Regions from separate parts of the Homo sapiens genome. Here region 2 is linked to region 1. The links come from fine-mapping of genetic effects on gene expression. A gene starts in region 1. The other region holds a variant in brackets. All regions are shown on one strand. Distances are between the middles of the regions.

What was found. PIP is the estimated chance that this variant, and not a neighbour inherited with it, causes the effect.
Region 2: its variant is the best candidate, but not a certain one, in a credible set for the expression of URM1 in liver (GTEx, PIP 0.59).

What each region holds. Positions count from the first base shown.
Region 1 is chr9:128,366,432-128,374,758 of GRCh38, reverse strand. URM1 (ubiquitin related modifier 1) reads right to left here and starts at 3,385. Exons shown (of 5, transcript NM_030914.4): 1 at 3,344-3,385. The coding sequence starts at 3,378. RefSeq lists enhancers at 3,187-3,286, 3,350-4,213, 4,214-5,078.
Region 2 is chr9:128,398,564-128,408,725 of GRCh38, reverse strand. No RefSeq gene overlaps it. Among named protein-coding and RNA genes, the nearest start is that of MIR219A2HG, 10 kb to the right of the region's middle. RefSeq lists an enhancer at 3,169-3,969. The variant A/G (reference allele first, on the strand shown) is at 6,564.

The DNA.
Region 1 (8,327 bases):
CCTCACCAGACTTTTGAAGAATGAGATGTCTTCCACCCCACCACCCTTTCCCAATTTCAGGGAACAGAGATGTCCTGAGACAGCCCGCTGGGAGGCAAAGGCAAGGCAAGCATTGTCATGGGGAAAACATGGGGCGACTGTCATCCAAACAAGGTCACGCTTTGTTGATGCAGAAATGTGGAGGGGGAGAGGAGGCCCATCTGTGGCCGCGCACAGGGCCATTTCAGCTGCAAGCCTGCACAGAGCCTCCATTTATTCCCTTCCAAGAGCCTCGTTTTCTCCTGGGTGGGGGGTTGGCACATGCAGCAGCTGGGGTGGGGGAGGGTGACAGGCAAGGGGCTCAGGAGTTGGGGGTCAGAGAAGAGGGATGGGAACTGAAGGCACTGGGACTTAGGCAAACAACCAAGACTGGCCAAACCTGGTGGTGCCAGGCTCAGAGGCCGAGGCTGTTTTTCCCTTTACAAGCGGATGAAGGGAGAACCAGTCTCGCTCAGAGAGTGACCTGTCACTGCTGAATTCACTGGCCCTCAAGGGAGGGGTTGGCATTTCTGCTGTCAGCACATCTGGAGTGGGGGAAGGTGCATGCCCAGCCTCAAGAGTGATTCAGGGAGGCAGACAAGGGGCCTGTTCTAGCCCAGGAGAGACCAAGGCCAGACTCTCTTATGTCTTATAAGATCTGCTATTCAAACTCAACTGACATATCTCCATCTTCCTTCAACCCCCCCAATTCTTGGTGGATGTGTTTGTAGATACCAGTGACAGGTATAGATATTCTCAAAACCACCTTCACCTTTTCTGATGTATCTTCATCTTTTAATCTTCTGTATATACACATACATATACACGTATATATATATTTTGTTTATTTACTTCCTCTCCACCTGCTGGGCTGCAAGCTCTGCCTAAAACAGGGCCTGGCACATGGTAGACACTCAACAAATATCTGCTAAAGGAAAGGAAATGCCCATTTCTCCCAGTTCTTCTCTGACCTCAATGACATTCCCTCCTTTTGCCAATACCTCCCCAACTTGGGAAGGAGGAAGAGGGGTGGGACGGAGAGAACTCCATATCTGGGCCTTTACAACATGGACCACAGGGACACAAAACACAACTATATTACATACTTTGAATCCTGCGTGACCTGAGAAAACGCTCTGCTGAGAACAATTCAGGGGGAAGACAAAGGGTGGCAGACGTGGTCACTGACAAGAAGGAAGGTGTTAGAGGCCTTCCAGAGGGTCTCTGGAGGAGCTGGTGGGGCCAAGAGGACTACATCTGCTCAGGAGGGAGACCCTTCCAGAACTGGAGTGGGAGTGGGGCCACTAAGGGACAAAAGAGAGAAAATGAAGGGCGTGTTAGCCTTTGCAAATTTGCTCCAGTTCTGGATAAGGGTGAATCATGTCTGCTAAGATACATAGGAAATGAAAGAAAGGTCAGGGCAAAAACGTGCATCAACACAAGGACAAAGAGAGAAGGAACCTGGGTTGAGCATCATGTTGGGCATTCCTGAGAATGCTGCAATTTTCATGGAACGCTGTGCTGTGACAGGAGGTGATAGAAGGTGGGTGGGTGGGTGGGTGGGTGGAGGAATGTTGTCCTGCCTTGCCAGGGGTCATTATTGCTCTTGGAGGTAAGGGAGACTGAAGTTAGAGATGATTGGGTCAGAAAAAGGGCAATTGTGCTGGTTTGTAAGCTCTGGAGAGCAATGGCCCCATCTTCCTCACATGACTTCCCCACTGAGCTAGCACAGTACCTAGCAGAGACATTGTTGATAAACAAAGACCATGTCTGACTCATGAGGATGAAAGGCAAGTTGTCTGCAGATAAATCTTCTTTTTTTTTTTTTTGGTAGAGATGAAGTCTCCCCATGTTGCCAAGGCTGGTCTCGAATTCTTGGGCTCAAGCAGTCCTCCTGCCCAAGCCTCCCAAAGTACTAGGATTACAGGCATGAGCCTCCATGCCTGGCCCAGATAAATCTTAACACAGCAGTCTGTGGCTTCTCTCTTTCCAGCTCTGCTGAGGCCTGTCAAGGAAGCAGGGATCCTCCTAGAATCCCAGGCTTTGGGGAGTGTAGCTGGGCCAAGGGTCAGTGAGGCAAAACAGTGAGGAGTCCAGACCAATACAGTTCTAATTGGATCCAAGCAGCCAGACAATATCAATTAAAATGCACTTAGTCATGAGACTTACCCCCCTTCTAAGGGGCAGAAATGCTGAACGCTGTAGGGCACGGACAGACTTCTATTTATCTTTGTATCCTCAGTGTCTGGCTTGCTGCCCGGCACATGGTAGGCACTCAATAAATGGCTGGTGAATGAACTACCCAATTAAGGGAAAACATGAAAGAAATGGGAGGCATCCAATGAGAAGAAAGGCACTGGGCAGAGGTTTTAGATTCCCATCCCAGACTTTTCCTGTCACATAGACCTTGGCTTATCTACACACACACAGGCACACACACACACCTACCTATTCCACACACACACACACACATCCCTACCTATTTCCTCTTTTCCACGTGATACTGTAAAGTACACCACCCATCTTTCAAGGCCTGTTTCTTTGCCTTCTCTCTAAGCTCTGCAGTTTCCCTCAGCTTTGAAACCATATGACAAACCTGTTTGTAGGAAGCACAAATAGTGCCTTGGGTAGACTTCCTCCCTGCTCTGTGTTTCTTCAGTAACTGGTGTGTGTCCCAATCTCTGCATTTTTCATCTTGTGTATACTATACTGTCCCTGTTAGTTCCCTTCAGTGTGATTTCTTATTTGTCCCCGTGTCTCCACCTGACTCCAGTTCTGCAGAAGGCAATCAGCAAGTTTACTGACTGTCCTGAAGGAGGCTCAGGTCTGTTTACCATCCCCAAGTCTTAGGAAAGAAAAAGAAAAAAGTCCCGCCCTGGCCACTACATCCCACGAGAAACAAGACCTTAATAACAGTGTAAAAAGAAACTGCTGCCCAAAGAATGAAATCAGCGGGTGGAGGGTGGTCCTTCTAGGTTCTAGGAGCTCAGATGCCAAACAGATGGGATTGGTCCGAGATAGGAATGGAAAAGAAGAGAGAGAGGCTGCCTGCTAACAGTCACGACCTCCGACTCCGGCGGAGCACAGGGCACCGAGTGGTACACAGAGAGCATTTCCCTCCCAATGTGCGCCTCTATTTCCGGACAGACGGCCTCACTGCCAAGAGAGACTGGCCTCTCAGACTCTCCTAGGCGGGTAGCGTAGCTCACAGCGGGCACTGGGACACCCAGTGATTCGGCCGTGTCAGGCCCCACGGCAGAAGGAAAGGAATTCTGGGCCCGACGACTTCAATCCATCCCCACGGCGCCCCAGCTCTGTGACTCACCCGAACTCCACCTCCACTGACAAGGGCGCAGCCATGTTGAGGAAGCCGAGCTCGCAGGAAACTCCCCTCAACTTCCGGCGCGCCCGCAAATTTCCGGGCGTCTCCGGGTGCCGCGGACGGAAGAGGCGGTGCCCAGGGATCCAGCTTCGTCAGCTGTTGGAGGAAGTCATCGAGGGGAGGGGAGGGGAGGGGAGGGCAGCGGAGGGAAAGGGGTGGCAGAGGGACTATCACCGGCGCTGTTGGGGCTGTGAATCGGTCTCCTTCCGTCTTTCACCGACTGGGCTCAGAGACCCAGGGTGGGAAGCGCCTTGTACGGGACCACAAGCAGGCGGAGGAGAGCCCCCAGGTTTTTTGCGACGTGACCGTGAGCCACGTAGCTGCTTATCTTGCATGAGTTAGAATCTCTTCAGTCTACACACCGCTTGGGCCAGCCCATCTACTCGTCTGGTTGGAATTATAAATGACTCCCAGATCTTTATTTCCGACCCAGAATCTCTCCTGAGCGGGCGACTCGCTATCCAGCCGCCCCCTTTGCTGTCGATTTGGAAGTCACTCGTTCAACAGCTGTTCATTGCGCCTCCCTGTGCCAGGCATTTTGATCGGTGCTAGTGGTAAAGGGGATGGGCAAGGTTCCTGCCTTTAGGGCACTCACAGTCTAGCGGGGAGACTAACTGTAATCAAATAAGCATACTAAGACATGTACAACCTCAAACTTAAATAAAGGAACTGAAGTTATAGGAACTTCAAAAAGAAAACTGAGTAGACTGGACTTGCTGGGCTCTAAAACCTGAGTAAACTAGGTGGCTGTGAGGGGAGAGAAACCTCTAGGAGCATTCCAGTGAGGAGGACAAAAGGCCCAGAGGCTCTGGGTGAGAACATGCTGGAACATGGAGAGGAAGGTGGAAGTTAGGGAGCCTGACTTTCATCCATCTAGAGAGGGAGCTGCAAAGGTGCTCAGGGGCCAACCCCTGCCTTGTAAGCAGGTAAACATTTCAGTCTCTAGGAGCAGTGGGAGACTACTGAAGGGTTTTGGGAGACAGTGACATTTTAGAATTGTGTTTTAAAATATAATTTCTGGCTGCAATATGGAGAATGATTTGAGGGGAATAAGGAAAGAGACACGGAGACCACTGGAGCCTGTTGCAAAAGCTCAGGGCAGGCCGGGCGCGGCGGCTCAGGGCAGGCCGGGCGCGGCGGCTCACGCCTGTCATCCCAGCAATTTGGGAGGCCGAGGCAGGCGGATCACGAGGTCAAGAGATCAAGACCATCCTGGCCAACATGGCAAAACCCTGTCTTTACTAAAAAAATACAAAAATTAGCTGGATGTGGTGGCGTGCGCCTGTAGTCCCAGCTACTCGGGAGGCTGAGGCAGAAGAATCGCTGGAACCCGGGAGGTGGAGGTTGCAGTGAGCTGACATCGAGCCACTGCACTCCAGCCTGGTGACAGAGCAAGACTCTGTCTCAAAAAAAAAAAAAAGCCCAGGGCAGAAATGGAATGAAGTTGGCCAGGCACAGTGGCTTATGCCTGTAATCCTAGCACTTCGAGAGGCCACGATGGGCGGATCACGAGGTCAGGAGTTCAAGACCAGTCTAGCCAACATGGTGAAACCCTGTCTCTACTAAAAATACAAAAATTAGCCAGGCATGGTGGCAGTCTCCTGTAATCCCAACTACTCTGGAGGCAGAGGCAGGAGAATCCCTTGAACCCAGGAAGCAGCAGAGGTTGCAGTGAGCCGAGATCGTGCCACTGGACTCCAGCCTGGGCGACAGAGTGAGACGCTAAAAAAAAGAAATGGAATGAAGTAGACGGCCTATGGGTATCTAAACACCAACACTTCCAAAACTGAACTCAGCATTGGTAGAGGATGATGGTGTAGCCTAGTGGTTAAGGGCAGAATGATGTAATAGTTAAGATCTAGGAGTTCAGGTGGAATGGGTGTGGCGACTCACACCTGTAATCCCAATGCTTTGGGAGGCCAAGGCAAGAGGACTGCTTCTGGCTGGGAGTTTGAGACCAGCCTGGGCAACACAGCAAGTCCCTATGTCTGTAAATGTTTCTTCAAAAATCAGCCAGGCATGGTGGAGTGTGCCTGTCCCAGCTACTCAGGAGGCTGTGAGGGGAGGATCACCTGAGCCTGGAGGTCAAGGCTGCAGTGAGCCGTGATCATGCTATTGCATTCAGCCTGCATGACAGAGTGAGACTCCGGAGTGCAATGGCATGATCACAGCTCACTGTAATCTTGAGCTGCTGGACTCAAGGGAACCTCCTGCCTCAGCCTCTAGAGTAGCTGAGACCACAGGCACTGATAAAGTCCTTCCTTCCTTCTAGTCCACCATGCCCGGCTAATTTTTAAAATTTTTTTGTAGAGACATGTTTTCACCATGTTGCCCAGGCTACTCTCAAACTCCTGGGCTCAAGCAGTCTGCCTGTCTTGGCCTCCCAAAGTGCTGGGATTACAGGTGTGAGGCACCACACTGGGCCAAAAAAAAATTGTTTTGTTTTTGAGACAGATTCTTGCTCTGTCACCCAGGCTGGAGTGCAGTGGCATGACCTCGGCTCACTGCAATCTCTGCCTGCCAGGTTCAAGAGAGTCTTCTGCCTCAGCTTCCCGAGTATCTGGGACTACAGGCTTGCGCCATCATCCTGGCTAATTTTTGTACTTTTAGTAGAGATGGGGTTTCACCATATTGGCCAGGCTGGTCTCGAACTCCTGACCTGGTGATCTGCCCGCCTTGGCCTCCCAAAGTGCTGAGATTACAGGTGTGAGCCACTGCACCTGGCTTGGCCAAAGAATTTTTAATTTAAAAAAAATTTTTTTTGTAAAGATCTAGGAGTACAACTACCAGCTTTATATGCAGGCCCTGGCCAGGCACAGTGGCTCACGCCTGTAATCCCAGCATTTTGGGAGGCCAAGGTGGATGGATTGCTTGAGGCCAGGAGTTCAGAACCAGCCTGGGCAACATGATGAAACCCCATCTCTACCAAAAGCCAGGCATGGTGGCACACACCTGTAGTCCCAGCTACTCAGGAGGCTGAGGCACAAGCTGGGAGGCGGAGGTTACACTACTGCACTCCAGCCCTGGGTGACAGTGAGACTGTCTGAAATAAAAATTAAAATTAAAAATTAATATATCTAGGTCCTACTACTTTCTAGCTGTGTCTTTGGGCAAGTCCCTTAACAGCTTTGCGCCTCAGTTTCCTCATCTGTAAAATGGGGATAATAACATCCCAACCCCATAAGGTTGTAGTGAGGAGTGAGTAAGTTCTTGGCACAGTGACTCTTTCCTAAAACAGGTTCTCTCAGCCGGGCGCAGTGGCTCACACCTGTAATCCCAGCACTTTGGGAGGCTGAGGCAGGTGGATCACTTGAGATCAGGAGTTCGAGACCAGCCTGGCCAACATGGTGAAACCCATCTCTACTAAAAATAGAAAAATTAGCTGGGCATGGTGGTGCACACCTGTAATCCCAGCTACTTGGGAGGCTGAAGCAGGAGAACTGCTTGAACCCGGGAGGCTGGAGTGCAGTGGCGCAACAAGAGAGCTAGACTCCGTCTCAAAACAAACAAAACAAAACAGGTTCTGTGTTCCCCATCTCAGGAATACCACTACCACCCACCAAAACACCCAAGTAAACACCCAAATTACCCTAATTTTCCCTCTCTCATATCCAAACAGTCACCAAATTTGGATGAGTCTCCCTTCTTTTTTTTTTTTTTTGAGACGGAGTCTCACTCTGTCGCCCAGGCTGGAGGGCAGTGGTGCGATATCAGCTCACTGCAAGCTGTCTCCCGGGTTCACGCCATTCTCCTGCCTCAGCCTCCCAAGTAGCTGGGATTACAGGCGCCCGCCACCAGGCCTGGCTAATTTTTTGTGTTTTTAGTAGAGATGGGGTTTCACCATGTTAGCCAGGATGGTCTCAATCTCCTGACCTCGTGATCTGCCTGCCTCAGCCTCCCAAAGTGCTGGGATTACAGGCGTGAGCCACTGCGCCCAGCCGAGTCTCCCTTCTAATCTGGCATGCCCCCCCAGTCCTCCAGCTCATCACCTCACCTGCACCTGCTTCCTCTCTGGCCTGCCTGCCTCCCACCTCCTCTGGCCTTGGCTTCATTGTACAGATCAACTCCACGGACAGCTTTGAGCCCCTTCAATGTGCCAGGCCCTGTTCCTATAAAACAAGGACAAATGAGACACTGCCCTGGTCCTTGGAAAGTGGAGGACTCACGTGGTACACAGAAAGGCCTCATCCTCACCGTGCCATGTGACCCACCCCTCTGTGGAACTCAGTTTCCCTATTCTGTGAAGAGGTTTGGGACCAAATGATCTTCTAAGGTCTTCTATGCAAACATATTCTAAGATTCTTCTACTGTACTCTAAGCTCCTTCTGGGCAGAAACTTTTCCTGATTCATCTTTGATTATAGCAGGTAGTGCGGAACTTTGTACTCTATAGGGGTTTGCCAAGAGCTTGCTGAATGAGTAAATGAATGAATGATATCAGTCCCCTGCTCAAAGTCACTTAATGGCTTCCCTTTGCCAACAAGCTAAGGGCCTACCTAGAAGGCATACAGAGCCCTTTACAGCCTCTGATTCCAACCCACCTCAGTGTCCCCTGACCTGGAAACTGCCTCCCAGAGCTGGAATGGAGCACTTGGGAGCATTTGAAGAGCTTCATCCACCTGACAAACATTCACTGAGAACCTATTACACACCAGGGCCAGTGTTGCTGCTGGGAACACAATGATGAACAAAACCTGTCAGTTGGCCGGGTGCGGTGGCACACGCCTGTAATCCCAGCACTTTGGGAGGCTGAGGCGGGCGGATCACGAGGTCAGGAGATCGAGACCATCCTGGCTAACACGGTGAAACCCCGTCTCTACTAAAAATACAAAAAAAAATTAGCCGGGTGTGATGGCGGGCACCTGTAGTCCCAGCTACTCGGGAGGCTGAGGCAGGAGAATGGCGTGAATCCAGGAGGCGGAGCTTGC
Region 2 (10,162 bases), 33 kb before region 1:
ATCTTGCAGGTAGAAGAGTTTCAATGAGGATGATGACAGTGGTGATGGTGGTGCTGCCAAGCCCCCCTCCTCCAACTCCTTTACCCCTAGGGCCTTCTTTCTTGAGGCCAGAACCCGGACTAGGGAGGGGACAGGGGAACAGGGACAATCCCATGGCTAAGTAAGACAACCCAGAAGGTGACTTGGCTGTGGCTGGGTGGGATCTCAGGGTCTGGGAACGACCCCTCAGGATGCAGTGAGAAGTATTTGCCACTTGGTCCTGTGCACTTCAGAGGTGCCAGGCACTGTGCTCACTAAGCCCTTTCAGACCTTCATACCCTTTTATCATGTAAACTTTTTCAGACTCACAAAGCAGATGTATAATTAGCTCCACTTTACACTTGATAAGCTAAGGCTCAGAGAAGTTCAGTCATTTGTCCAACGCCACACAGCCTGGAGGTTGTGGAGCCAATACTCAAGGCGGAGCCGCTTCCTTCCTGAAATTATACTCCAGTGGGAAGGAGAGAGGAACAACGAGGCAGCTGGACATGGTGAGTTCTGGCTGGGAGGGTCTTCCCTCCCTGCCAGAAGGCTATGAATAAAGAAATGTCTGCTTATCCCCAGGGGAAATTCCATCCTTGGAGCAGGTGCCTTTATTTATTTATTTATTTATTTATTTATTTATTTATTTTTTGAGACAGAATCTCGCTCTGTCACCCAGGCTGGAGTGCAGTGGCGCGAACTTGGCTCACTGCAACCTCCACCTCCCGGGTTCAAGCGATTCTCCTGCCTCAGCCTCCCGAGTAGCTGGGACTACAGGCACCCGCCACTACGCCTGGCTAATTTTTGTATTTTTAGTAGAGATGGAGTTTCACCATATTGGCCAGGCTGGTCTCTCAACTCCTGACCTTGTGATCAGCCCTCCTTGGCCTCCCAAAGTGCTGGGATTACAGGCGTGAACCACTGTGCCCAGCTGCAGTTGCCTTTAAAAACGAGGTTGGACAAGCACTTTGGGAGGCTCCCGCCTGTAATCCCAGCACTTTGGGAGGCTGAGGCAGGTGGATCACTTAAGCCCAGGAGCTCAAGACCAGCCTGGGCAACATGGCAAAACTCCATCTCTACAAAAAATACAAAAATCAGCCAAGCATGGTGGCCATTCACTCCAGCCTGGGCGACAGGGTGAGACTGTGTCTCAAAAAATAAAAATAAAGTTTATTTAAAAAAAAGCTTGATTGATTTTTATCTGTGAACAGAGGTGGGCCTGGGTAGACATCCAGATGCAGGGGATTGAATGCAATGACCTCCAGCGGAGGCCTCCTAGGAATCAGAGGCACTATGGAAGAACGTTTAAGGGATTGGGCTCTGCAGCCAAGCTATGGGCTTGAATCCCAGCTCTTTTTCTCGCAGTGTGTCCACAGATGAGTCACTTCAATGCTCCGTGTCTCAGTTTTCCAATCTGTAAAACTGACTCCACACTGCAGGAATGTGGTGACCACCATTCAGCAAGGTACGTGGACGACCTCAGAACAGAGCCTGACCCAGTGAGGAATGCCTGTTTCTACTCGGCAGGGTCCCCCCAGCCAGGTCCCACCTCAAAGCAGGAACCACTGGGGTGCTGTGGTATGCAGTCAGCTGTTGACCTTGCTTTTTGGGAAGTGGTTGGGCTTTAAAGACAACATGAGGGACTATGGTTAGACACCAAGAACAAAGACGCCATTCTCTGGGGGATGTAAGGCAAAAGCCAACCACGGCTTCCCAGGGATAGTCAGAGGAGATTGTGGCGCTCTGAGGCCCAGGCAGGGGCTGCTCCTGCTACTAGGCTGGGCCCTGGGCATGGTGCCTGGAGAGACAACAGAAAGGAAAGGCCTGGAGGTGCTAGGCAGAGTCGGCTCCCTCCACCCCTCAGCCTCTTAAATTCAGGGGGAAACTGCATGTGGAGAGGGAAAGAGAGAGGTGGTCAAAGATGGCTTCCATAACACAAACAGCCTGCGGTGTGATGAGGGGGCCTGGTGGGTTTGAGTACCAGCAGTTTGCTGTGTCACCCGGGATGAACTGCTAACTCTCTCTGAGCTCATTCCAAAGGTCTTTTAGAATCCAAAGTGTTAAAAGGAAACCATTACAGCAGCCTCTGTGATTTCACAAATCTAATCAGAAAGTTGGCTAGGCTGGGTGCGGTAGCTCAGGCCTGTAATCACAGCATTTAGGGAGGCTGAGGTGGGAGGATTGCTTGAGCCCAGGAGTTCAAGACCAGCCTGGGCAACATAGTGAGACCTTATCTTTTTTTTTTTTTTTTTAATATAAAGATATATTCCATGCAAGAGAGACCTCATCTTTTAAAACAGAAATTTAAAAATCATACAAATAAAAATAAAACACAAAAACCTGGCTGGGAATCCAGGAGTCCTATACCCTAGACTCCAGCCCCTCCTACCTCCTCACATTCCCAGCCCTCTCCTCCAGCTTCTCTAACCATCCCTTCAGCTCCCCTCACCAAACCATCAGTGACACACGAGTCCCAGACAGAGGGTGAGACAGTCACAACAGAAAAGGCCACAGAACCATGAGGACTCACGGAGATTGTGGGGGTCTTGGGGAGCCCCGACATGGACAACCTCTCCCTCCCTCACTGCCTGGCTGTGGGGCCAGAGGAGCACTCACCCGGGCAGAGCCTCTTGGGGGTACTCCTCAGCCCAGGAGGTGGATGGCACTGCTGGGGCGTCTCTGGCATAAGGTGACTCCCACCCAGCTCCTGCTGCTGAGAAGGACTGGTCAGGCGGGGCCCTCAGGTGCCAGACCGCCCTTCCCGGGCACAGATTTTCCTGGCATCTGCTGGGCAGGAAGGGCACTGGCTGGGGGTTGGGCAGAGGAGCAGGGAAAGATTTGAGCAAAGACGTCTCCCAGAGGGCTTCCCCCTAAACCTTCACCCCACTCTCCTTCTGGACACTGTAGGCCAAAGGTCCAGGAAGACAGGGAGCCTCAGGAGTGGGGAGAGGTCTGATCAAGGAGGCTGAGAGGAGCCCAGGCCCCTGCCCCCCGACCGCTCCCATCCACTGCCAGCAGGGCCCACACGGAGGTGTTTGCTTTTCCTGCCTCTACACTGACTCCATTCAGAGCAGCCGATCCCCACCCCCGGCCAACGACCAGAAAGTCAGGGCACCAGGGAGTGAGATCACGGCCCCCACCTCCCCCTCCACAACCCTTCCTGCCCTCTTCACTGCAGGAGATACCTCAGCCACAAGGGCTTCCTAGTTTCATGGACGACTGGGGCGTGGGGGGCTGGCAGGAGGAGAGAAAGAGGGAAACCAAGTCGAGAAGAGGGTGGTGGGAAGTATCTGAGGAGAGGGACGCAAAGGGACACGGACGATAGGGCTCCTGATGGAGGCGGCCCAGGCAGAGATGGGGCAGGGACAGGATGGGGGAGCCACAGAGCAGAGGACTGTCTAGGAGGCAGGCAGGGCCGTCACTAACCAGTCCAGGGCCTCACAGCCTGGCTCTGCACCGGTCACGGCCAGCAGGGCCCGGAGTGGACACTGAGGATGGGAGCTCCTGGCGCCCACCTGGAAACCAGCCTCCTTCTCATCCCCGGAACAAGGGCCCAGGCAGAGCTGTGACCTGGTCTGTGGCCAGGGGAAGGAGGAGGGTGAAAAGTTTCCCCAAGTCAGAAGGCCATGGGGGAGGCATCTCAGGGGGTCCTGCTCTTTGCTGTCTCTGACTGTCACATTGGTACATAAAGGGGGTAGAAAGGTCAGATGCGGCCTTTCAGGCCCGTGGGAAAAACTCAGCCCATTTCCCTAATCCATATTTATTGGTGTGAGACACTGGGGTGGGAGGAAGCCCGCTGCCCCCACCCGCCGCCCCAGCCAGGCCAGGTTAGCACTAAGAACAGGCTCCATGTCACCCAAATCCTACTCTTTGTCTCCAGATTGGCTCCAGAATCCTCCCCCATCCCTCCTCCCCTTGGTCCCCCCCACCCAACCCCCCTCGGGGTTGCCAAGCAACCATGGAAGGGTAGCTGAGATATTTTCTTTATTACAAGCAAAAGCAAGACAGCATCATGGCCCCAGGAGGGGAGCAGGGTGGGGGCTGGGGGAGAGGGTGTCCTGTGCTCTGGGGGGACTCAGCCACCTCCACTTGTTCTGAGCGTGAGCAGTGGGGAGACAGGGCCCCAGAGCCCAAGAGAAGGAGGGAGATGGAAGAGAGTGTTGGTGAAGGGGTGGGTGGAGTGTGCAGACACTGGTCCACTCTACACAATGCTAAAAGATGGGGTGGTGCCATGAGACCCAGGCCTGAGTCTCTCACCTGCCACCCACCAGCTGTGCCATCTGCACCCAAGTCACTTCCCTTCTCTGGGCCTGTTTCCTCCTTGATAAAATGGGAATAATAATATGTATTATCTCATTTAATCCTCACAAAAGACCCAGGAGATGTTTATTTTTCCTATTTTATTGGTTAAGGAAGCTGAGGTTGGGAGGTATGAAGTCATGTGCCAAGCAGGTAAGTGGCAGAGGTGGGATTCCTGAGCCCCATCCCTCTCTTTTTATCTTTTTTTTTTTTTTTTTGAGATGGAGTCTTGCTCTGTCACCCAGGCTGGAGTGCAGTGGCAGAGTGGCGGGATCTTGGCTCATTGCAACCTCCGCCTCCCGGGTTCACGCCATTCTCCTGCCTCAGCCTCCGGAGTAGCTGGGACTACAGGTGCCCACCACCATGCCCAGCTAATTGTTTGTATTTTTAGTAGAGATGGGATTTCACCGTGTTAGCCAGGATGGTGTCGATCTCCTGACCTCATGATCCACCCGCTTCGGCCAGTGCTGGGATTACAGGTGTGAGCCGCTTCGGCCAGTGCTAGGATTACAGGTGTGAGCCACTGTGCCCGGCCTCTTTTTTTTTCATAACAGCATTGTTGAGATGTAATTCACATGCCATGCAATTTGCCTACTTAAAGTGTATCATTCAACAGCTTTTAGTATATTCAAGAATTGTGCAACCATCACAACAAGCCATTTTATATTTTCATTATTTTGAAAAGAAAGCCCATACTCAGGCTGGGCGTGGTGGCTCACACCTGTAATCCCAGCACTTTGGGAGGTCAAGGTGGGCTGATCACCTGAGGTCAAGAGTTCAAGATCAGCCTGGGCAACATGGTGAAACTACATCTCTACTAGAAAAATACAAAAATTAGCAGGGCGTGGTGGTGGGCACTTGTAATCCCAGCTACTCGGGAGGTTGAGGCAAGGAGAATTGCTTGAACCCAGGAGACGGAGGTTGCAGTGAGCTGAGATCGCACCACTGCACTCCAGCCTGCATGACAGAGTGAGACTCCATCTCAAAAAAAGAAAGAAAGAAAGAAAGCCCATACTCATTAGCCATCATTCCCCATTTCTCCCCAACTGCCCTTCTCCCCAGCCCTAGGCAACCACTAATCTGCTTTCTGTCTCAATAGATTTGCCTATTCTGGATATTTCATGTAAATGGAATTATACAGTATGTCTAAGTCCCAATTATTATTATTTTTTAGACATGGTTTCTCTCTGTCACCCAGGCTGGAGTGCAGTGGCACACTCATGGCTCACTGCAGCCTCAACCTCCTAGACTCAAGTGATCCTTCTGCCTCAGCCTCCCAAGCAGCTGGGACTACAGGCACCCATCACCATGCCCAGCTAATTTTTTTTTTTTGCAGAGATGGGTTCCCACTATGTTGTCCAGGATGGTCTTGAACTCTCGTGAGTCCCAACTCCTTAACTTCCAATGGTTCCTACTTCACTGGGTACTGGGGCAATAGAGTAAGAGGAGTGAGGTGGTGAAGTATTGAAGAATGTGGTCTTTGCAGATACGCAGACTTAGGTCTAAAACAAACCTAGGGCCGGGTGTGGTGGCTCATGCCTGTAATCCCAGCACTTTGGGAGGCTGAGGTGGGCAGATCACCTGAGATCAGGAGTTCAAGACCAGTCTGACCAACATGGAGAAACCTCGTCTCTACTAAAAATACAAAATTAGTTGGGCGTGATGGCACATGGCTGTAATCCCAGCTACTTGGGAGGTTGAGGCAGGAGAATAGCTTGAACCTGGGAGGTGGAGGTTGCAGTGAGCCAAGATCATGCCATTGCACTCCAGCCTGGGCAACAAGAGCGAAACTCCATCTCAAAAAAAAAAAAAAAAAAAACCAAAACTCTAGCTCTTGGCAGGGCGTGGTGGCTCACAACTATAATACCAACACTTTGGGAAGCAGAGGTGGGAAGATCACTTGAGCCTAGGAGTTTAGGACCAGTCTAGGCAACATAGCAAGACCTCATCTCTCTTTTTTATTATTTTTTTTGAGACGGAGTCTCGCTCTGTCGCCCAGGCTAGAGTCCAGTGGTGCGATCTCGGCTCACTACAAGCTCCGCCTCCCAGGTTCATGCCATTCTTCTGCCTCAGCCTCCAGAGTAGCTGGGACTACAGGCGCCCTCCACCACGCCTGGCTAATTTTTTTGTATTTTTAGTAGAGACAGGGTTTCATCGTGTTAGCCAGGAAGGATCTCTCTTTCTTTCTTTTTAGACAGAGTCTCACTCTGATGCCCAGGCTGCAATGCAGTGACGAGATCTAC[A/G]CTCATTGCAACCTCCACTTCCTGGGTTCAAGCAATTCTCCCACCTCAGCCTCCAGAGTAGCTGGGATTACGGGTGCCCACCAACACACCCAGTTATTTTTTTTATTTTTTGGTAGAAACGGGGTTTCACCATGTTGGCCACACTGGTCTTGAACTCCTGAGCTCAAGCAATCCACCTGCCTCGGCCTCCCAAAGTGATGGGATTACAGGCACAAGCCACCGTGCCCGGCCTGGGACCCCATCTCTATTAAAAATAATAATAATTAATTGACACTGGGTGCGGTGGCTCATGCCTGTAATCCCAGCACTTTGAAAGGCTGAGGCGGGTGGATCACCTGAGGTCAGGAGTTCAAGACTAGCCTGACCAACACAGTGAAACCCTGTCTCTACTAAAAATACAAAATTAGCTAGGCGTGGTGGCACATGCCTGTAATCCCAGCTACTTGGGAGGATGAGGCACCCAGGAGGCAGAGGTTGCAGTGAGCCGAGATCACACCACTGCACTCTAGCCTGGGCAACAAGAGCGAAATTCTGTCTCAAAAAAAAAAAAAAAAAGATTAATTGAAATCAATAAAACCTATCTCTGTCATTCAGGAGCTCTGTACCTGGGGGAAGTTGCTTGCTCTCTCTTGGCCTCAGGTTCCTAGTGGGTAAAATGCGGAGAGTGATAGAATTTCTCTGAAGGGCTGTAGTGATGCATGTCAAGCGCTTAGCCCAGTGCTCAGTGCTTAATATATGGTAGTTGTTGCTAACTAGATTACAATGGTCCAGATTACAATGGTCCATGTATCTATTTATTCCTTGACCCAGGTATTTAATAAAACAGCACCTTCCGGCCGGGCGTGGTGGCTCACGCCTGTAATCCCAGCACTTTGGGAGGCCGAGGCGGGTGGATCATGAGGTTAGGAGATCGAGATCATCCTGGCTAACACGGTGAAACCCCATCTCTATTAAAAGTACAAAAAGTTAGCCACGTGTGGTGGTGGGCGCCTGTTGTCCCGGCTACTCGGGAGGCTGAGGCAGGAGAATGGCGTGAACCCAGGAGGCGGAGCTTGCAGTGAGCCGAGATCGCGCCACTGCACTCCAGCCTGGGTGACAGAGTGAGACTCCGTCTCAAAAAAAAGAAAAGGAAAAAAGAAAGAAAAACAAAAATTTAGCACCTTCCAGCCGGGCGCGGTGGCTCACGCCTGTAATCCCAGCACTTTGGGAGGCTGAGGTGGGCGGATCACCTGAGGTCAGGAGTTTGAGACCAGCCTGGCCAACATGGTGAAACCCTGTCACTACTAAAAATACAAAAATTAGACGGGTGTGGTGGCAGGCCACTGTAGTCCCAGCTACTCGGGAGGCTGAGGCAGGATAACTGCTTGAACCCGGGAGGCGGAGGCTGCAGTGAGCCGAGATCGCGCCATTGCACTCCAGCCTGGGTGACAAGAGTGAAACTTCATCTAAAACAAAACAAAACAAAACAAAAAAACTTAGCACCTTCCAAGGGGCAGGCGTTGTTCTAGGTGCTGGGGATTTAGTAATGAACAGGACGTGATCCCTCATACAGCTTCTGTTCTAGTAGGTGACAAACAAGACAGCTGGTAAATATGACACTTTCAGGGAGTGATCCAGTCAAGGAAGACATCAACACAGCACGATGGGCTGAAGCGTGCCGGGCAGGTGCATGTTTTAACCTGGAAGGCTTCCCTGCCCTGCCTTCACTCACTTCATAGAGAGGAACATCTTCTGTAAGCCGAAAAATGCTAGGCAGGGTGGAGGGGTTCTTAGGATCCCCTCTGAGTGGGGACAGGTGGCCTGGCTCTGGCATCTTCTGAGACTGGAGTGAGTCAGGTTGTCAGTTCATTTCTAGAGGTAGGACACCTGGCCAGTCACCATGTAAGAGTGCCGGCCAGTCTTAGAGAATTCTCTTTGTATAAATGGTTCTGGCTACTGAAGCCCAGAGTGGGCAAGGGCCTGGCCTATGGAGGCACACTGAATAGCAATAGGGTTCTTTCCTCTATCCCAGGCTGCCAGGCCAAATCACAGTGAAACCCGGATTGACAGAAACACTTGGGGACAGGAATCTAGGGATGGAAAGATCTGGCACAGAGGTGGAGCCTGTCGCCACAGCTGTTCCCTGGGCATCTGTCTGCATGCTCTGGGTCCTGGACTTGCCTTAAAGTGCAGAACTGAGGCTGCTGCATGACAGAAGCCCCTCCCAGCCCCCTTCAATGAGCCTCACCCACAGCAATATCTCAAGTGCCACACCTAGAACCTCAGCTGATTGGCTGCAAACATCCGTGCACCCACTGTCAATTCCTTATTAATTTCATCTTTCACTCCATTGTCCCAAAGTCTGCTTTTTCATGCATCCGTCTCCATCTACCATTCATTTAATTATTACTTCAATAAAGCATTCATCAATTCATTCATTCATTCATCATTCATTCAACAGATGTTTACTGAGCATGTCCTTTGTGCTGAGCACAATGTTTGGTCAAATCCTTGGTAAAGGCCTGGTGCGGTGGCTCACGCCTGTAATCTCAGTACTTTGGGAGGCCGAGAAGGATCACCTGAGGTCAGGAGTTCGAGACCAGCCTGGCCAGCATGGCAAAACCCTGACTCTACTAAAAATACAAAAATTAGCCAGGCGTGGTGGTGGGCACCTGTAGTCCCAGCTAAGTGGGAGGCTGAGGCAGGGAGAATTGCTTGAACCTGGGAGGTGGAGGTTGCACTGAGCCGAGATTGCGCCACTGCACTTCAGCCTGGGTGACAGAGCAGGACTCCATAACCAAAAAAAAAAAAAAAAAAAAAAAAATCCTTGGTAAAATGCCAGGCCAGGCCAGGCCAGGTGCGATGGCTCATGCCTGTAATCCCAGCACTTTGGGAGGCTGAGGTGGGCGGATCACTTGAGGTCAGGAGTTTGAGGCCAACACAGTGAAACCCCATCTCTACTAAAAATACAAAAATTAGCTGGGCATGGTGGCACACACCTATAGTCCCAGCTACTTGAGAGGCTGAGGCATGAGAATTGCTTGAATCTGGGAGGCAGGGGTTGCAGTGAATGGAGATTGTGCCACTGCACTCCAGACTGCGTGACAGAGTGAGACTCCACTTCAAAAAAAAAAAAAAAAAGCCGGGTGCGGTGGCTCACGCCTGTAATCCCAGCACTTTGGGAGGCTGAGGCGGGTGGATCATGAGGTCAAGAGATTGAGACCATCCTGGTCTCAACCCACCTCTACTAAAAATACAAAATTTAGCTGAGTGTGGTGGCACGTGCCTGTAGTCCCAGCTACTTGGGAGGCTGATGCAGGAGAATTGCTTGAACCCGGGAAGTGGAGGTTGCAGTGAGCCGATATCACGCCACTGCACTCCAGCCTGGATGACAGACCGAGACTCCGTCTCAAAAAAAAAAAAAAAAAAAGCCAGTCCTGGTGGGAAGGAAGGGCTTGCTTAACTGGCAGTGTGGACAACTCTGCCGTCTTCTTTTTTAATTTTTTTTTTTTTGAGACGGAGTCTTGCTCTGTTGCCCAGGCTGGAGTGCAGTGGCGTGACCTCGGCTCACTGCAAGCTCCGTCTCCCGGGTTCACGCCATTCTCCTGTCTCACCCTCCC